Regions from separate parts of the Homo sapiens genome. Here region 1 is linked to region 2. A link means that fine-mapping ties the variant in region 2 to the expression of a gene that starts in the linked region. Tissue or cell type: whole blood. Region 2 holds a variant in brackets; the other region holds the start of a gene. All regions are shown on one strand. Distances are from middle to middle. Region 1 holds the start of L3HYPDH (trans-L-3-hydroxyproline dehydratase). Region 2 has its middle 37 kb from the start of GPR135.

Evidence for each region. PIP is the estimated chance that this variant, and not a neighbour inherited with it, causes the effect.
Region 1: it holds the start of L3HYPDH, and the variant in region 2 is fine-mapped to the expression of L3HYPDH in whole blood (GTEx, PIP 0.91).

The regions. Positions count from the first base shown.
Region 1 is chr14:59,480,261-59,489,401 of GRCh38, forward strand. L3HYPDH (trans-L-3-hydroxyproline dehydratase) reads right to left here and starts at 4,148. Exons shown (of 5, transcript NM_144581.2): 1 at 3,549-4,148. The coding sequence starts at 4,056. JKAMP (JNK1/MAPK8 associated membrane protein) reads left to right here and starts at 4,257. Exons shown (of 7, transcript NM_016475.5): 1 at 4,257-4,333; 2 at 6,453-6,544; 3 at 7,414-7,568. The coding sequence starts at 4,330. It overlaps LOC124903326 (a long non-coding RNA gene), which reads left to right and starts at 7,575. Exons shown (of 2, transcript XR_007064196.1): 1 at 7,575-9,141. RefSeq lists enhancers at 608-707, 4,223-4,502.
Region 2 is chr14:59,423,329-59,432,469 of GRCh38, forward strand. No RefSeq gene overlaps it. Among named protein-coding and RNA genes, the nearest start is that of GPR135, 37 kb to the right of the region's middle. The variant C/T (reference allele first, on the strand shown) is at 4,910.

The DNA of each region.
Region 1 (9,141 bases), 57 kb after region 2:
AGAGTGGAGGCTGAAGGTCCTTAGTGCAGAGAGGACGTGTGTTAACTTCCCCCAGGGCACCACAGGAGCAGGAGTGAAGAAACAGAGGATGGGGAGGCAGTGCAGAGGGCAAGGACCAGGTAGGGTGGGGCAGCCAATGCTCCTGCTCCACTTTGCTGGTTAACTGTGTAAGCTGAGGACTGAAGTGCCATCCTCTCCAAGGCCACAGCACTTTTAAGAAACCTTTGCTCACACATATCAGGAAAGGGGACAACACATGGAGTGATGAGGCTAAGTGAACCAAAAGGACAGAGTAGAGTTTCAGCTTCAGAAATTAAGTTTTGGGAAAGAAAATATATCTTGTGTTCCTGAGTTTTCATACAAGGTCATACAAAGATATCAGTATGCTATCAGTCCACAGAAGGCTATCAGTATGCTATTAGTCCACACTAGTCCACAGAAGCCCTTTTAACCCATGATGTGTTAAAACAGAGCAAGTTTATAATCAAAAGAGTAAAACATGCTGTGGATTGTAACAACAAAACTGAATAAAAAATGTCTTTATCTTGATGCTGGCGCAACATGAAAAGCAAGTTTAATGAAAAGAGAATGGGCAAGTTGATAGAAATGAGGGACTGCTGGAAGGTGGAAAGCTAAAGTGAGGGTGAAGATCAGCACTTACCAGGAGACACAGGTGACGGTCCCAGGGTTCAGTCGGCCTGCCCTCTTCCCTTGATTGTAACAACTAAATGGGGCATTGGCCACCAATCCCGGGACCAGGATGAAATTGGGAAGCTGGTTCAGGAGAAGTCATCCCTGAGCCTACAATCATTTCCCTGGCCCAACCTTTCTAGAATCTTGGGTCTGGTTTTCTTAGGGTGGGCAGTTGGGTAGGGTGCTACACCTCACTGAGTTTCAGTTTCCTTTTCTTTAAAATGGACCAAATTTCCTTTAAAGTTACTCTTGTCCACCAATTATCTGTGACTATTTCATTTTTTAATCACTAAATTACTAACATTAAAAATTAAGATATTTATTTCACCCATGAGTACTTCCTATGTGGCAGGTCTTTACATACACTAGCCCCTTAATTCATTACATTAGTGCCTTAATTACTACAGCCCTGAGAGGTAGGTACTGTTTTACTTACTATCTTTACATTATTCCCTGGTTTACCCACTAAATAAGTGGCAGAGCTTGGGGTCAAACCCAGGACCAGGTGACTCCAAAGCCCAAACCCTTTCTACTAAAATATACAACCTCTATCCAGAACACAATCCAAAATCTAAGGGTTTTTCTTTTCTTCTATACAAGCATATCACTGAAATTTCAATTTGATTTACTTTGCTCAAGATTTAGTGAGCACCTACTATGTGCCGATTACTGTAGAAGATACGAGAAGTACAAGGAATAAAACATAGGCTTTTCCCCTTCTTGGAGTTTAGTTGGACAAGACAGATTTTAAAATGCTTTAAAATACACTAAGCACTATTCTAGAAAATTGAAACATATCTCCTTAAACTACAAAAAATTTTAAGGATGAGAGGGAAGCAATATGATAGGCCAGGGTTCCAACCCTAGTTCTGCCATTAGTGTGGCTTTGGTGTCTTGTGCAAACTGTAACTGCTATTTCTCCTAAAAGAGTTGTTTTGAAAATTCCACGTATGGGGAGTTCCTGGCACAGATTAGGGACTCGAAAGCCAAAACTTTAATTTCCAGTGGCAATAGGTTTCTCAAGAGGACCAGATGTTTACATTTGTCAATCAGCATATTCTTCTCCAAATTTCATTTATTTAGTTACTCATTCAACAAACATTCATTGACTGACTACTCTTCTAGGCACTTAGAATACTGTGAACAAGAAAGAGTTTGCATTTTAGCCTGGTGGGGTGGAGATGAACTCAGCAACCCTCTGAGGTGGGTACTGTTGTCATCCTCATTTTGCAGACTGTGATACTGAGGCATGGACTCTCTAGCACAAGGTCACTGAGATGGGGAGAGGTGGGGCAGTGACCTTGAACACTATGTCTGCCTTGTATGCATTTTTCAAAGTAGAGAATATAGCATTTCATTTTCTTAACTCAGTGACCATTAATGCCCACTAATCATTGTACTGTCATACAGTGATGCTCTCAGGAACTACTGAGAGGAACTACTGAGGTCAAGTGGTTGACTGACCCTGCCCTAACTGACCCAGAAATGAGATGTAGTTTGTGTTCCTGCTGCCAGCTGCCATTTCCTACAGAAGTCTAGAGTGTTTCTACTCTGCTGCTGGAGTTGCCTAGGGGGAATTCTGGTAGCCACGCTAGTTAAACTGTTGAGGTTTTAAAAATGGAATCGTAAACATAAATTCTGTCTCCCTCAAGTGGCCTCCCAGTCTGGAAGTGACACCATTCTCTGGGAAAATGGCATCAATTTCTCCAGAGGCATTCTTCGTTAACTCGTGGATTTCAGCTGCCTAAGGTTGCTCTAAAAGTGCCTGTTCTATCAGTTATCATTCATAATCAGGCTAATCTGAAACCTAGTTCTTCAGGGGGAATCAAGGTCCAACTTTCTAACAGATGATTTGCATGGCTTGAAGATTTTTAAGAAAAGGATAACTCTATTCCTGGTAAACTGGCTCCTGGCTCACTTCCAGTCACAATGACTAAAGCATTCTTACTGATAGAATTCAGCTCCTGGGAGGTAGTAGTCTGATGAGAAACCAGATGCCAGCTTGCCAGGTCATCCCTCCTGTAAGGGTTATGGTTATAGAGATGCCCTGCTTTACATGATAAGCTGTACAAGGATCTGTACTAGAGAATCCAGCAAAACCTTTTAATGGCTCAATAGGCCTAGGGAACTTTAGCGATCATATAAACCTTGCAATCTATCTCCAGGAATACAGTATCTTGCATACTCTCATTTAATCCTAACAAAAAAACTCTATGAGGGAAAAGAAGAAACACAGGCACAGAGAGATTAAGTAATTTGCCTAAGGTTGCACAGCTTTAGGGGGTTATCAGGATTTGAAACCAGGCAATGTGTGTTCCTGTTCTTAAAGAAAAGCAACATTCGTATCTTAATGATTTATAAACTGCTTTGTTCATTCATTCTCATTTAATTCTTCAAAGAAGTGGGGGAGGTGAGGAAAGGAGACCAGGTTTAGTAACTTATTAAGTGTGATTCTGTGTCTACCAAGCATATTCTCAGCCAGCCTGGAACCCTGGTACATTGGCTGTTCTTCGCTCTTTCCTTGACCCCACCGTACCTTGCTTTATCCACCGGTGAAATCTCTAGGAATGCCTCACCAGTGCAGAGGGAGGCGCTGAGTCAGGGTAACACGCAATTCCTCGCTCCTCAAGGGTCTCCCAAAACCACAGGCGGATGGGAGTCAGGGAAAATCGAAATTACACGCACCAAATACGCAAGGCTGCTGACACACGTTGGCAGTGATTTACCTTTCTATTAATTGCAAGGTTTCGCGGAGTAGGTTAGTTGCCAGAGTTCCAGCCCAGAAAAACCGTTAATGTAGTTAGTCGCGTCCCGGTTGCAGCTCTGCCCTGGGCTGGAAAGGTCCCGCCCATTACCTGTGGCCAGCACGAAGGCCGGGACGCTGTGGAAGCGCACCGGTCCGTGGCTGCGGCCGTCCTCGCATGCCACGAAGGCGGTCACCAGCCCGCAGGGGCAGTGGATATTGACGCGGGCCTCGCGGGTGCCCGCAGGGGGCGCCGGCACAAGCCCGAAGTCCAAAGCGAAGCGGCCCAGCGCCAGCACTGCGTGGCCGCACATGGAGCTGTAGCCCTCGTTGTGCAGGAACAGGACGCCCAGATGCGCGTCCGGCAGCTCGCTCGGGACTAGGACCGCCCCGTACATGTCCCGGTGCCCTCGGGGCTCGAACATGAGCCGTCGCCGCACGTGGTCAAGGTGCTGGCGCATGTAGCGCCGCTTGGCCAGCAGGGTGGGCCCAGACACCTCCGGACACCCCGCCAGCACGATACGCAAGGGCTCGCCGCCCGTGTGCATGTCCACCACCGACAGCACCGGCGTCCCTGGATCATGCGGGGGCAGCCGGGGCACCGCCAGCGCGCTCTCCATGGTCTGCGTCGGGGGAGACGAGTACGGTCCCGCAGCTATGGCTTCAAGCCCGACCCTCACCCACTGACTCCGCGGGAGGAGGGCGGGACGCTAACCAGCCACGTCCGGGGGGCGGGGTCTCGGAGCCTAAACCCGGAAGCGAGGGAGGAACTTCGGAGCTGTCGCCCGGGTTACCGGGAGGCGGAGCCGCCGAGCTCGCTGTGGCCCGGATGTTCGGTGCAGCTGCCAGATCCGCTGATCTAGTGCTTCTCGAAAAAAACCTTCAGGCGGCCCATGGGTGAGTGGTCGCCAAGATCCCGGGAAGCGTTTCTGGTAGTCCCGACTACTTTCCTACACGGCTGGCCTCGGGCTCGGCTCTTTGTAGGCGGCCTTCGGTTGGCGGCGCAGGCTCGCCCCTTGACCCCGCCCGCCCTCGGGCCGGGCTCCGCACTCCTGCGGGGTTGGGGTGGTCTGTCCGCAACGGGCTACTAGGGGAGGCGCGCTGTCTGCGGCGAAATGCCAGGTCTTTGTTGTTTGGTCCGAAATGTCTCTTCAGTCCCTTAGTTTAATGTCGAGGGAACACTTGCTTGAGGGTTGACTTCGGAATTGAAAACGCGGGTGATAGTGCAGAAAAAACAGTAAAGCAGAAGCAAGTTGCTGCATAATTTGTCTACTGCTTCAACCTCAAACGTAGATTTATAGCGCCCGTCACAAAGGGCAGGACCGCTGCAAAAAAATGGAATCTTAAAACTTTAGCCATCGTTCGCTAAAGGAAATGAAAGGAGAAATTCAACAGTCGCTTGGAGCCTGGGTTTTGCTTAGTAAGTGATAGGCTGTTTATTTCAGTTCAGTTTATCATACTGGTTTTCAGGCCTTGGATTTTGAGAAACTTTAGATTATTGATATTCACGTGTATTTATTAAGCATCTACTAGATGTAAAGCCCATACAGAAGTTTCCAATTCCTTACCTTCTGCATTCTTGAAAAACCTGAAATATTCATTTTCATGTATTAATTTAGAACATTGTGATTACAATTGGTTACAAAAAAAATAAGCGCCCATTAAAGAGGCCAGTGGGTTTAAAAAGCTAAGTCCGAAATTTGTTAAAAGCGAAAATATTAAACTGGAGGAATATTATTCAATGCTGTTTCTCTTTTTCTCTCAGCAGCATAAGGAGAAGGAAGTAAAAAGTCTGCTTGAATGTGAAAGGAGAGAAGGCACTGTAGACCAGGCAGTCTAGATTGTGAATTCGTGAATAATTTGGGAAATGATTGTTCAAGAATAGTCAAAAGATGCATAATTTTTCAAATTAATTCACATGTAGACCGCAGTTTGTTTTGAGACGGAGTCTCCTTCTGTAGCCCAGGCTGGAGTGCAGTGGCGCGATCTCGGCTCACTGCAACCTCTGCCTCCTGGGTTCAAGCGATTCTCCTGCCTCAGCCTCCCCAGTAGCTGGGACTACAGGCGCGCGCCACCACGTCAGGCTAATTTTTGTATTTTTAGTAGAGACGGGGTTTCACCATTTTGGCCAGGCTGGTCTGGAACTCCTGACCTCATGATCTGCCCACCTCGACCTCCCAAAGTGCTGGGATTACAGGCGTGAGCCACCTCACCGAGCCTGTTTGTTTGTTTTAATCAATGAATGAATGAAGGGAATCAGATGTCACTGATGAAGAAAACTTCCATAATTTCTTGTGAATAAGGTCAAAGACAACGTATTAGGTTCTTAGTTGTTGGGGTTTTTTTAAGTAAGGAATAGCTGCTTTTCCCCTAAGCCTTTAGATCAGGGGCTTAATTTTAATGCAGTGGTTTCTAAAATATTGGCCCAGTGACAGCCTTGATGAAATTTTCACTTATCCTCCACAAAAATGATAAAAGCTAGGACAATGTAGGAAACTTTTTATAAAGGTAATTTGCATACCTCTGTTATGAAATTATGTTCTCTCTGCTTTTCCCATGTGAAAATGTGTTCTGTTATGAACATAGGTGATAATGATAATTGTGTGTCTACATGTGGGTGCTTAATGTCCTGACTGGGCAAAATACAAGGTGGTGACCCTCTACTGGTGCTCTAATTTAAAAATATATGTATATTTGAACTTTATAATCAGTTAAACTCAGAAGTATCCTCTAATCATACCGGGTTAGGCTTTGAGTCCTGGAGATAGATCCTGCTCTGCTGGTTGAGGACCTTAATCATAAGGCACGGTATTAACAGCAAGGTTCCAGGATAACTGTCTGCAGTGTCACAGTGTAAAAGGAGAAATGTAAATTTAAAAATGCTTCAAGACTTTTGTCTAATACATATTATTCAAAAATTTGAAACTGTTATTTTTGCCAAATGCTTCAGCTATTATTGCAATTATTTTTTATAATCACAAAAGATGTTACTATACTGGCATTTGTTTTTAAAAAGCTGTCGATATTCAACCAGCATGCCTTGGACTTTATTGTGGGAAGACCCTATTATTTAAAAATGGCTCAACTGAAATATATGGAGAATGTGGGGTAAGTCTTATGTTTGTATCTTATTTCATTTTGTAAAATCTATTTGCTTTTGAAATATTTTCACATACAACATTTTTTGTTATTATACTCATTAATTTATAAAAGAATATGGAGGACCAGGCGCAGTGGCTCATGCCTGTAATCCCAGCACTTTGGGAAGCCTAGGTGGGTAGATCACTTGAGGTCAGGAGTTCGAGACCAGCCTGACCAATATGGTGAAACCCCATCTCTGCTAAAAATAGAAAAAAATTAGCTGGGCATAGTTGTGTGCGCCTGTAGTCCCAGCTACTCGGGAGGCTGAGACAGGAGAATTGCTTGAACCTAGGAGGTGGAGGTTGCAGTGAGCCAAGATTGCACCACTGCATTCCAGCGTGGGCAACAGAGGGAGACTCTGTCTCAAAAAAAAAATAAAATAAGGAAATATAAAAGAATATGGAGGCATTAATATAGTCATTGTTCATGTTGGCATTTTGATGTCTATATTATTTTTTAAAACATTTAATAATTTTATAATAATTTCTAATTTATGATTTGGTACCGTGTCTTGTACAGTAAGTTGAACATCATGAATCCAGAACATTTATCTGCAGTTATTCTTATATAATGTTAATAACTAGGTTTTTCATTGAATGTTAGTCAACTATTTTAGTAACTTAGTAAAAGGAATCTTCTAAGAGCATTGTACAAATATAGCACATACAATATAGATTTCTTTTTATTTTACTTATGCCCTCTTTTTTATTTCTAAAAGCTGCACATGTAAACTTAAATATTTAAACTGAAATGGGATGTCTTATAGAATGATTTGGGGGGGTGTTAATGTTGTAAAATAATATCTGTACACAAAATATTGGTTTTATATATTATAGGTATGCCCAAGAGGACAGAGAACGAATGCACAGAAATATTGTCAGCCTTGCACAGAATCTCCTGAACTTTATGATTGGCTCTATCTTGGATTTATGGCAATGCTTCCTCTGGTTTTACATTGGTTCTTCATTGAATGGTACTCGGGGAAAAAGAGGTTAGCACATTTCTATGAACATATCTGGCTGGACTAATGTTGGAATAATTATCACTCAGAAGACCTTATTAAGTAATTATGCTTCTTCTGTTTTAAAAGTGGTAAACATGTTTTTCTTTATCTTCAGATTATTCTTAACTGTGACAAGAAAACTTAACAATAGGGCATGACTTAGTAATTTTTAAGGGAACTGTCCTTAGTCTGTTTTACTCTCAGTGATCTTGAAGGAATACTTTTACTTCTCAACTATAATCCTTATTGGTTTTCTACACAAAATTGGTTATGATTACAAGCTATTTATTGTTATGGAACACATTCTTTGTAATTTAATTTAATACTAATAATCTAGTATGATGTAGTTAAAAATGATATAGCTGTAACCTAATACAAAAACTCATATTAACATATTAAATCAGCACACATTTACTAAGCACTGCATTTTATGTTTGGAAGATCAGGGAAGGAGATATAAAAATAACTGACATGGCTTATAGTCATAATCTTGTGGAGAAAACAAGTGTGTACATAATTATAAATCAGTCTTAGAAATGTAGTGGAAGAGTTATAAACAAAGTACTCTGGAGTTACAAAGAACAGAGAGATAAATTATGCCTCATGGGATCTGAAAGATTTCAAAAAAGGAACATTTTAGGCAGAAGAAACAGCATGAATAATGGCATAGAGGTATGAAATATGTGATCTGTGGTAGGCAGGAATGGAAGTAATCTGGGGTAGTCAAGAGTGGGTTGCAAATGAAGAAAAGTAATATAAAGGGGAGTAGGAAAGATAGGTTGAGGCCAGAATGTGAAGGTTCTTGATAAGCATGTGAACTTTAATCTGCTGGGAATGGGAAGTCAAATTCTGCCTTACTGATTTTCTTTTAGTTCCTCCAACTTCTCAGGATCTTTCCTACTTTAGGTTCTTTCCCTTCCTGCAAACTCTTTCTGCTGTCTGAAATACTCTCTTCATCTGACTGCAACTTGTTACCTAGCTACCTTCTTTTCCTTCTGATTTCAGTTTAAAAGTCACTCAGAAAGTTGAGTACTAAAAACAAAACAACAACAACAAAACAAAGAGTGCCCAATTAAAAGAGAAAAATAAGGAAGACAGCCTACTTTCTATTCTTTCCTTCTAGGCCTCTGGGCCTGTGGTCGGACAGGCAGTCTGAAAGACTTCTGAAATGCCTTCAAGCCTTTTTCTCATTGTGTTGGCTATTAGCACTTGGCTCTCTTTTAGCCATGCTAACCTCTCTAGCAAGTTGCTGTACAGCCTGGTTGAATTCCTCTCCTGAAAATGCTTTTCTTCTCTACCACATGGCCAGGCTGCACATTTTCCAAACTTTTAGACTCCGCTTTCCTTTTTAAGTATAAGTCCCAATTTTTAAGTCATTCCTTTGCTCCCACATCTATCTGATCATAGGCTGTTAGAAGCAGCCACAGCACATCTTGGATGTTTTGTTGCTTAATGATTTCTTCCACTAGATACCCTAAGTCATCACTCTTAAGTTCCAACTTCCACAGATGCCTAGGACATGGACACAATGCAGCAGAGTTCTTTGCTAGGGCATAGTATG
Region 2 (9,141 bases):
TCATCATGCCATGTGTTTTTCTGGATACATTTTATTTTCAAATGCTTCTATGATTGAATTAAAGAAATCAATTCCTATTTCAGTGTGACTATTTTTCCTATACTCTTCTTAGATGAATCTGTGACAAGAGAAGGGTTAAAAATCAATTTCATGTCAGTGAGCGGGTCATTGTTATTAGTACTTTTTAAGTACTTTGATATAACTTTGTTTTTTTGGAAGTGGGGTCTTGCTGTGTTTCCCAGACTGGAATGCAGTGTCATGATCATGACTCACTGCATCCTCGAACTCCTGGACTCAAGAGATCCTCCTGCCTCAGCCTCCTGAGTTGTTAGAATTACAGTCACCAGGCACTGTGCCCAGCTCTCTATATATTATTACAGAATATTATTTCATAAGCAAAATTGCAAACATAAAAAATTGAAAGTGCTTAGCAATAATAAAGCTCCATTCTAGAAATGTAGAAATTATTAAAAATTGTATATTTTAGTTATTCATGGATAATGCAAATATAACAGCCATTTTGTGCAAAATATATGATAAATCAGAGTAAACTTAAGAATGTCCATGTAAATTAATTTAATAGTTTTCATGCTTTCCCCAAATATGCTGAAAAGGTCTCACTTGCCCTAGGGAAGTACATACACATAAAGCATGCCTTAGTGAGGTCTGCAGTTTTGCTAAAATAAATCACTACTTTCCAACATTAAGGGGAAACAGTAATTTATAGGACTGCAGTGAATACAAGTTTTTTAAATTATGGTCTGTCCTAGGGGAAAACTACCCCTGTACAAATGTATTTACAAGAAAATAGTTGGAAAAGTTTGGAAGCCTGCGCACTGTGGCATAATCTTTTATTACCATAATTATTTGCCTAAGTTAAGGTGCTTATCAGACTTGATCTCAGCCCTAACAAAATTTGAAGTAGTAAAATAGCATTCAAGTAAGACCTACATCATTACAGCAATATCCCTGATTCTTCAGATTTGAGGAGCGCTAAAGTTTTCTGAGCTCTTTTATCATACTGCCTCTCCAATGAGGTTCCTTACCTAGAATAAATAAGAAATTAAAATATACTGATTTATAAGCCATTTGACAAGAGTAATTTGTAAATTAGGTTGGACCTAAGGATGAACTATGATGGTTTTATTGAGAAGATTACAACTAGTGTCCAGTCTCTGTAGGGAATTTTCTTCCCTCTAGCCAGAGCACATTTGAAAACTTTTCCTTTTATGGCTTTAGTTAAAGAAGAGAGTTGACCTCTACACAAACTCTCATGAGCACACATAGAGTTGTGTGGGGTTTTTCTTTTCTGTCACCCCCCATCACTTCATATTTTAGACAACCTAGGCCGAGGGTCCCCCATGTTCATCCCTTTCCTGCTGAGACCTAGGTCTCTTTGGAGCAGACTCCTTCCCTAGATTAATCCCATTGTCTGACTTTTCAACATCCCACAAAGGGCTGCTATGTCCTAATCAAACAAACAAACAAACAAAGAAAAAACACACATGGTTACATGGATTGGAGCCACTTAAAGTTCACGTTCTCGGACTTCTCCCCTCCCCTTGCCCTAGAGCTGTCCCATGGGATGCCCTTGGCAGCCTTCTCTTCCATCCTCTTCAAAGGCTCCACCTCCCTCAGACCCAACCACCTCCCTTCATCCCTATTCTCAACTGACAACTTCCCCGCTCACAAGCTAATCTACTCCTCACCCACCTTCATTCCTTTTTTTCCTTTCCTTTCATTCCAGGGGACAAGGCTACTCCTACCACTTCCCTCAGGAATCTTGTTCCATTAACTATTATCTCTCTGGTATTAATGTTCTATCTCTCCTTGATTGATTCTTTCCCTTAGCAGACACAGACCCTCTTGGATTTCCTGCCACCTCCCTGGTCCACATCTTGGGCTGACGGTCCTTAAATGTAGGTGGTCCCAGGCTGTTTTTGAAGCTCTCTTCTTTTATTACTCTCTATACTTTTCTTTGATATCCCCATATTTACCCTGTAACAGTCAGGATTCAGTCAGGAGATGGAACCACACCAGTTATGTTAACTGAGATAAATTAACATGAAGAATTGTTAACTATGTATAAAGTTGTTAACTAAGTAACCCAAAGAGTGAAAAGAAAACTCTAAGACATGGCAAAAGTAGCACCTGCAGGAAGCAACTCCACCTCTAGGGCTGAAAGGACAAAGGAAGAAGCTGGAATTACTAAAACCAGAATGTAGAAAAGAGACTGCCTAGTGAGGGACCCAGACCTTGGAAGAGGGGACATAGTTGGTCACTGCTAGTGTCTCTAAGCGGGGGTAAGAGGAAGCCGGTTTTGCAAGTGTTAAAAAAAAAACTACACACTGGCCCCAACAGCTGTTACTGGAATGATCTGCAACTGCTGGAGGGAAGCAGTGAGGTTGCAGGGAGACTCACATCCTGTCCTCCCTCCAGCCCTGCAGCTTCCCTCTATTAGCAGAGCCTAAGAAAAAGCCAAACGGTCAAGCAGAAATGAGGTTTGCAGAGTCCTAGCTCCAGCATCAGAAAGCATGTATGGAGAGCACATTTGGAAGAAAATATAAAAATGGGCACAACTCCACAGCCTCAAATATCACTGGAAGGGGCCGGGCACGGTGGCTCATGCCTGTAATCCCAGCACTTTGGGAGGCCGAGGCGGGTGGATCATTTGATGTCAGGAGTTCGAGACTAGCCTGGCCAACATGGTGAAACCCTGTCTCTACTAAAAATACAAATATTAGCCGGGTGTGTAATCCCAGCTACTCAAGAGGCTAAGGCAGGAGAATCACTTGAACCTGGGAGGTGGATGTTGCAGTGAGCCGAGATTGTGCCATTTCACTCCAGCCTGGGCAACAGAGCGAGACTCCGTCTCAAAGATAAATAAAAATAAATAAATAAATAAATAAATAAATAAAACCACTGGAGGATTCAACAATCTGTTTCCCTAGCCCAAGTTTCTCTCTTGAACTCCAGGCTTTTTTAACCAGCCTCCTGTTGGAATATTTCTTTGCATGCCCTATGGTTACTTCAGACTCATTATGTTCTAAATTGCTCTCATTACCTTTCTCTTTCCCAGCCTGTCCTCTTCTTCCACCCTGCTCTCTCCATGTGAATGAGTACCACCGTTATGTCTTTATGAAATGCATAAATGTTATTTCATCAGTACACCTCTGGCCTTTTGCGCTCAAATTGAATCAATCATTAGAGCCCTTTCACTTCCCTTAATATCTCTCAAATCAGTTCCCTCCTCTTCAGTCCCATTTCTACTCTCTTAGTCTCTACCCCCTGTCATTTCCTACCAGATTAAAACATCGTCTACTAACTGGTCTTGCTGTCTCACATTTTACTCTGCTGCCATACTCTGGGCTCTAATTTCCTGACAGTGATCCCCTATACAAGCAGAATGATCTTCCTTAAATGCAAATCTTGTCACCCTGCTCCCTGCCTAAAATCCTTTACGGGCTTCTCCCAATCTTCAAAATTCCTTTCTCTTTGGTATGACTTAGAAAGTTGTCCAGCTTTAATTCTAGCCTCTACTTCTGTCCCCACCCTCTTTCCTCATTTCAATCCAAATTCAATCATCTGAGCATACCGCACTACCTAGCTTTCTTCAGCCTTGCCATGTTCTTCATGGCCTCTGCATGTTTGTACATCCCCTTGCCTTTTCTGGGTTGATCTTCCTATTTCTCACTTCTGACCCTTCTTCCCCTTTCTAACTTTTTTCCACCCTTCAAGATTGAACACAAGTTTTAACTCCTAGGGGTATTTTCTCTGTCTCAGCCCTCATGCCCGCCCCTGGTCTGTCAGGGTCTCTCCCTTGAGCCCCCACACCCCTTCATGTTGGGCTTCTTGGGGCTATTCCTGAGTGGTTAGGAGTGAGAGTTCTGAAGCCAGACACTGTGTTCAATTTCCAGCACTTCATATTGCTGTACGTGTGACCTCGGGAAAGTTATTTAGCCATGCCACCCTCAATCCCTGCATATGTAAACCAGGGCTTATAATAATACCTTCTGATAGGTGGTTATGAAGATTAAATGAGAGATATGCAAAAGCCCAATTCCAGTTTTTGATCATTCTTTTCAAAGTGTCTCACATAATTCTCTGGCTACTGGTACATGTAGATTATTAAAACCAGGGCACAAATTGATAGTGCACTGCTTTATCACAACACTGCTGTTCTGCTAAAACCCTCAGCCACATTTATCTCAGAAGGGCCAGGACCAGATGGACACTATCATTGACTTGAGTCTATAATTATTTGGGGATGGGCTCAAGTCTTGCATTTTTGTTTTTTAAGATACTAGGGTCTTCCACTCTCTTTAGGAAAAAGAGCGAATGCTTTGCCAGCCCTATTATCCTCTGACTGGTGTTAAAGCGCATTTAGTGGGAATGTCATTAACTTTTTCATGGGAAAGATGAAATTGGCCAGCACCCTGTTTCTCCCTTCCAGTTTTGCTGTGCTCCTGGCTGTGCCTAGAGAGGGAAATCCAATGAAGCGTGAGGTCAGGCAGCCCAAGCTCTTCCCCAGGGTGCACTCAGCCAGCAGGCCTCGGTCCTACCTTGAGGCAAACACTCCTTCTAAATGTTTATTTATGCTTTTGAACCCAAGGTCCAATGGGAACATGAAACATATGATTCCAAAAGAGATTACCCCCCACGGATTTCTTCTACCACACACAGAGAAAAGGAAAACCATGTATAAGCCAATAGTTGGGAACTTCTCCAGAGAGCTTCTGACCGCCATGTATGAAGCCCTTAAATATAGCTGTGGGGAGAGCAATGCCCAGGGAAGGCACGTGGACAGAATGAAGGCGCAGGCGTGTATTTTGTTTTAATTTTCTTTTCACCAGACCTATCCTTGACTTTTCACAGATTTCCCCAGCCGAAGAATCAGGATGGATGATAA[C/T]ATGGGAGAAAAATGTTCCACTGTGGCCAATCTGTGTTCCTCCGGAGAGTCACTTATATGCACGTGGATGGGCAGCCGGGAGCCCTGGTTGGACCATGAAGCAGCTGGGGAGGTCAGGCTGCTCCCTGGGAGCTGGGATGGAGTGACCTCTGTCTTTTGGTTCTCTGGCTTTGGTCCCACAGCAGACTGTCACCTCAGATGGCCTCACTGAGTCAGAATGAGTTACTGGCAAGTTAGCAACAGTCAAGCTATATGATGTCCTCCTGTGTCCCCCTCTGAGAACACTGAGAGTCTGACACTCCTACTGCTAGGCTGTGAAAATGACTAAGAAAAATGTAGTAGGGATGGCTTTTTAAAAAGCATGACAAGTTTTTTAGCCTTGCTCAAAAAATACCTCTCCTTAAGGAAAAAAAGCAAGAGGACCTGAGCATAGGCGTGGGGGTGGGAGGGAGCTAAAATACTAATGTCTCTAGGGGAAGTTGCCTTCAAAGGAATATAGGACTGCAGGGTGACTCATGTTCCCTGGAAATGGTTTATGTTCTAATACTGAATCTGTAGAATCACAAAACCAGATTGTATGCAAGCATTTTGCACATGTTCATCATCATTGTTACATGTCACAAGTATATTACTTTTATAACAAAAGTCTTATAACCAAGTTGTGTCTTTACTTTTTATTCTTCCACACTGCAGCTCCCCCTGCCTGGCATGTAGAAGGATAATCAGAGTGCTGGTCCTGCATGAAAGGAAGCTATCACAAACTATTAATGAGAGATGTTTGAGCCATTTTAAAATTGGTGAGAGATAAAATTTTTATTTTTTAAAATTAGAGTCAGCTTGTAGTTATTCACTGTAAAGAAATAAAGAAAAACATATAAGCTTAAATAGTTGGCTTTCGAATATATTTTATATAAATATATTTGAGTGTATTTATTTCTACTTCTGAATATAGTTTTCATCTAGGATTTTGGGAAGCCAAGTAATTTCCTACAAACTAAATGAAGTACATTGACTTCATACCTTTAAAAAAAACCCAAAAAAGGGCCGAGCGCAGTGGCTCACACCTGTAATCCCAGCACTTTGGGAGGCCGAGGCGGGCGAATCACGAGGTCAGGAAATCGAGACCATCCTGGCTAACATGGTGAAACCCCGTCTCTACTAAAAATACAAAAAAATTAGCCGGGCATGGTGGCAGGCGCCTGTAGTCCCAGCTACTCGGGAGGCTGAGGCAGGAGAATGGCGTGAACCTGGGAGGCGGAGCTTGCAGTGAGCCGAGATCGTGCCACTGCACTCCAGCCTGGGCGACAGAGCGAGACTCCGTCTCAAAAAAAAAAAAAAAAAAAAAACCCAAAAACAAAACAAAGAACACTCTGTTTAAACGAAATTGCTCAGAAGCCCTATATGTAAAATAGGTATAAATGGAGCAGCTTTGGTTGAAGCAGAAATTACAGGCCTTAAGCCGAGCCCTCTTGGCTGTCATGTGCACCTCATAGCAACACAAAAGGTGCTCTGGAGACAGCAGTTTACATAAGAAAATGAACACACACAAAGATGTTCACCATCATTAGCCACTAGGGAAATTCAGATGAAAACCGCAATGAGATATCACTGCACACCTATCAGAATAGCTAAAATAAAAAAGGGTGATGATACAAATACTGGCAAAGATAGGGAGAAACTATGTCACTCGTGCACTACTGGTGGGAATGTAAAATGGTATAGCCACTCTGGAAAGCAGTTTGGCAGTTGCTTAAAAAGCTAAACACGTAACTATGCAACCAAACAATTGCACTCCTGGGCATTAATCCCAGAGAAGTGACAACTTATGTTCACACAAAAACCTGTACGCTAGAGTTCATATGAGCTCTATTTGTAATAACCCCCAAATGGAAATAACCTAGATGTCTTTCAACAGATGAATAGGTTAAACTGCAATACATCTATATGATAGAATACCACTCAGCTATACAAAGAAGCCAATTATTAACACATCAAACCTGGGTGAATCTCCAGAGGATTATACCATGTGAATAAAGCTGATACCAAAATGTTGCATACTGTATGATTCCATTTATATAACATTCTTAAAATGTCAAAATTATAGAAATGGACAAAAGATTCATGTTTTCTAAGGGTTAAGAATGTGGGAGGGAAGTGGAAATGGCTTTAAAGGGCATGAAGGATTGTGTTGGTGATGAAACGACCTGTATTTTGTCTGTATCTACATCAATATTCTGGATGTAATAGTGTACCATAGTTTTGCAAGACGTTGCTATTGGTAAAACTGGGTTAAAAGTACATGAGATTGGCCGGGCGCGGTGGCTCACGCCTGTAATCCCAGCACTTTGGGAGGCCGAGGCGGGCAGATTACGAGGTCAGGAGATCGAGACCATCCTGGCTAACATGGTGAAACCCCATCTCTACTAAAAATACAAAAAATTAGCCGGGCATGGTGGTGGGCGCCTGTAGTCCCAGCTACTCAGGGGGCTGAGGCAGGAGAATGGCCTGAACCCAGGAGGCGGGCTTGCAGTGAGCCAAGATTGTGCCACTGCACTCCAGCCTGGGCGGCAGAGTGAGACTCCATCTCAAAAAAAATAAATAAATAAAATAAAATAAAAGTACATGGCGTCTCTGTATTATTTCTTACAACTGCATGGGAATCAAAAACTTTTTCAGAATAAAAAATCTATAATAATATTTTAATCCTAAAAAGATGATCTCTCGAAATCCTGTGTTCAACTGTAACTTGGATGTCACTTGTTTCACCCTGTTCAGACTGATTCATGCATCACTCTAGTGATGGCAGTGTGCCCTTCAGACAAATGTCAGGTTACAGGTGAAGTTCAACTTCCCTCCTTCTAATCCAGTAAAAAGCACTTACTTGAGTTAATATCATGAATCAATGAAGTATTCAGTGCTGGAAATGAACCTACTGTTTTGTTTTGTTTTTTTTTAAGTTCATACCTCCTCTGAACTAGATAGGCATTTAAGTGATAAAGCAGAGGAAGCAAGAAGGAGATATCAATGAGAAATGATTGGTTGGTTGGATCATGGCATGTACCTACCTCACTTCAAAAAGTGATTTAGGATATGTTATTTTAAAAATACGTGTTCTATATTGTGGTAGGCCGAGTGGTAGTCCTCCAAAGAGGTCCATGTCTTAATCCTCAGAACATGTGAATATGTCACCTTGCATGGTAAAAGGAACTTTGCAGATGTGACTAAGTTAAGGATCTTGAGATGAGAGATTAGCCTGTATTATGCAGGTGGGCCTGATGTAATTGTAAGGTTCCTTACAAAAAGGAGGGAGGAGTTCAGAGAGAGGAGAAGAGAATTTGTTAAGGAAAGCAGATATTGGAATGATATGGCCATAGCCAAGGAAACTGGCAGCCACTGGAAGCTGGGTGAGGCAAGGAATATTCCCTCTGAAGCCATCAGAAGGAATCAGCCCTGCTGACACCTTGATTTTAGCCCTATAAGATTCATTTCTGATTTCTGACTTCCAAAGTTTAAGAGAAGAATAAATATGTGTTGTCTTAAATCACTGCATTTGTGGTAATTTGTTACAATAGCAACAAGAAATTAATTGAAGGAGAAGAAAATAAAGAGGGGAAAATATGATGAAGCAATAGCTTACTCTTTCTTGTGTCTAATTTTATTGAAATACTAATTTGAAAGCAAGATTTACTTCTTATAAACTCTATGTAGACTGTGCACTTGAAAGCTTACCAAACAAAACAAAAACAAAAAAATCAGTCAACTCGCGTAGCGAGACATTGTATAATCTCTAATAATTAACTTTTTTGTACTCTGCCAGTAAAAAAGCTCATATTAGAAATTATTTTTAGGTCAGGTGCAGTGACTCACATCTGCAATCCCAGCACTTTGGGAGGCCAAGATGGGCAGATCACTTGAAGCCAGGAGTTCAAGACCAGCCTGGCCAACATGGTGAAACCCCATCACTAATAAAAATATGAAAATTAGCCAGGCACGGTGGCCTGTAGCTACTCAAGAGGCTGAGGCAGGAGGATCCTTTCAACATGGGAGGCAGAGGCTGCAGTGAGCTGAGATCACGCTACTGCACTCCAGGCTAGGTGACAGTCTTGACTCTGTCCCCCCCCGCCCCCCAAAAAAAGAAAATGTATTAAGCACGTCTATCGTTTGTCATAGTCTCAGTAAGAGTTAAGCTCAATATTATCTCTTTATTTCCATTTTAGAAAACCAAGAACCAA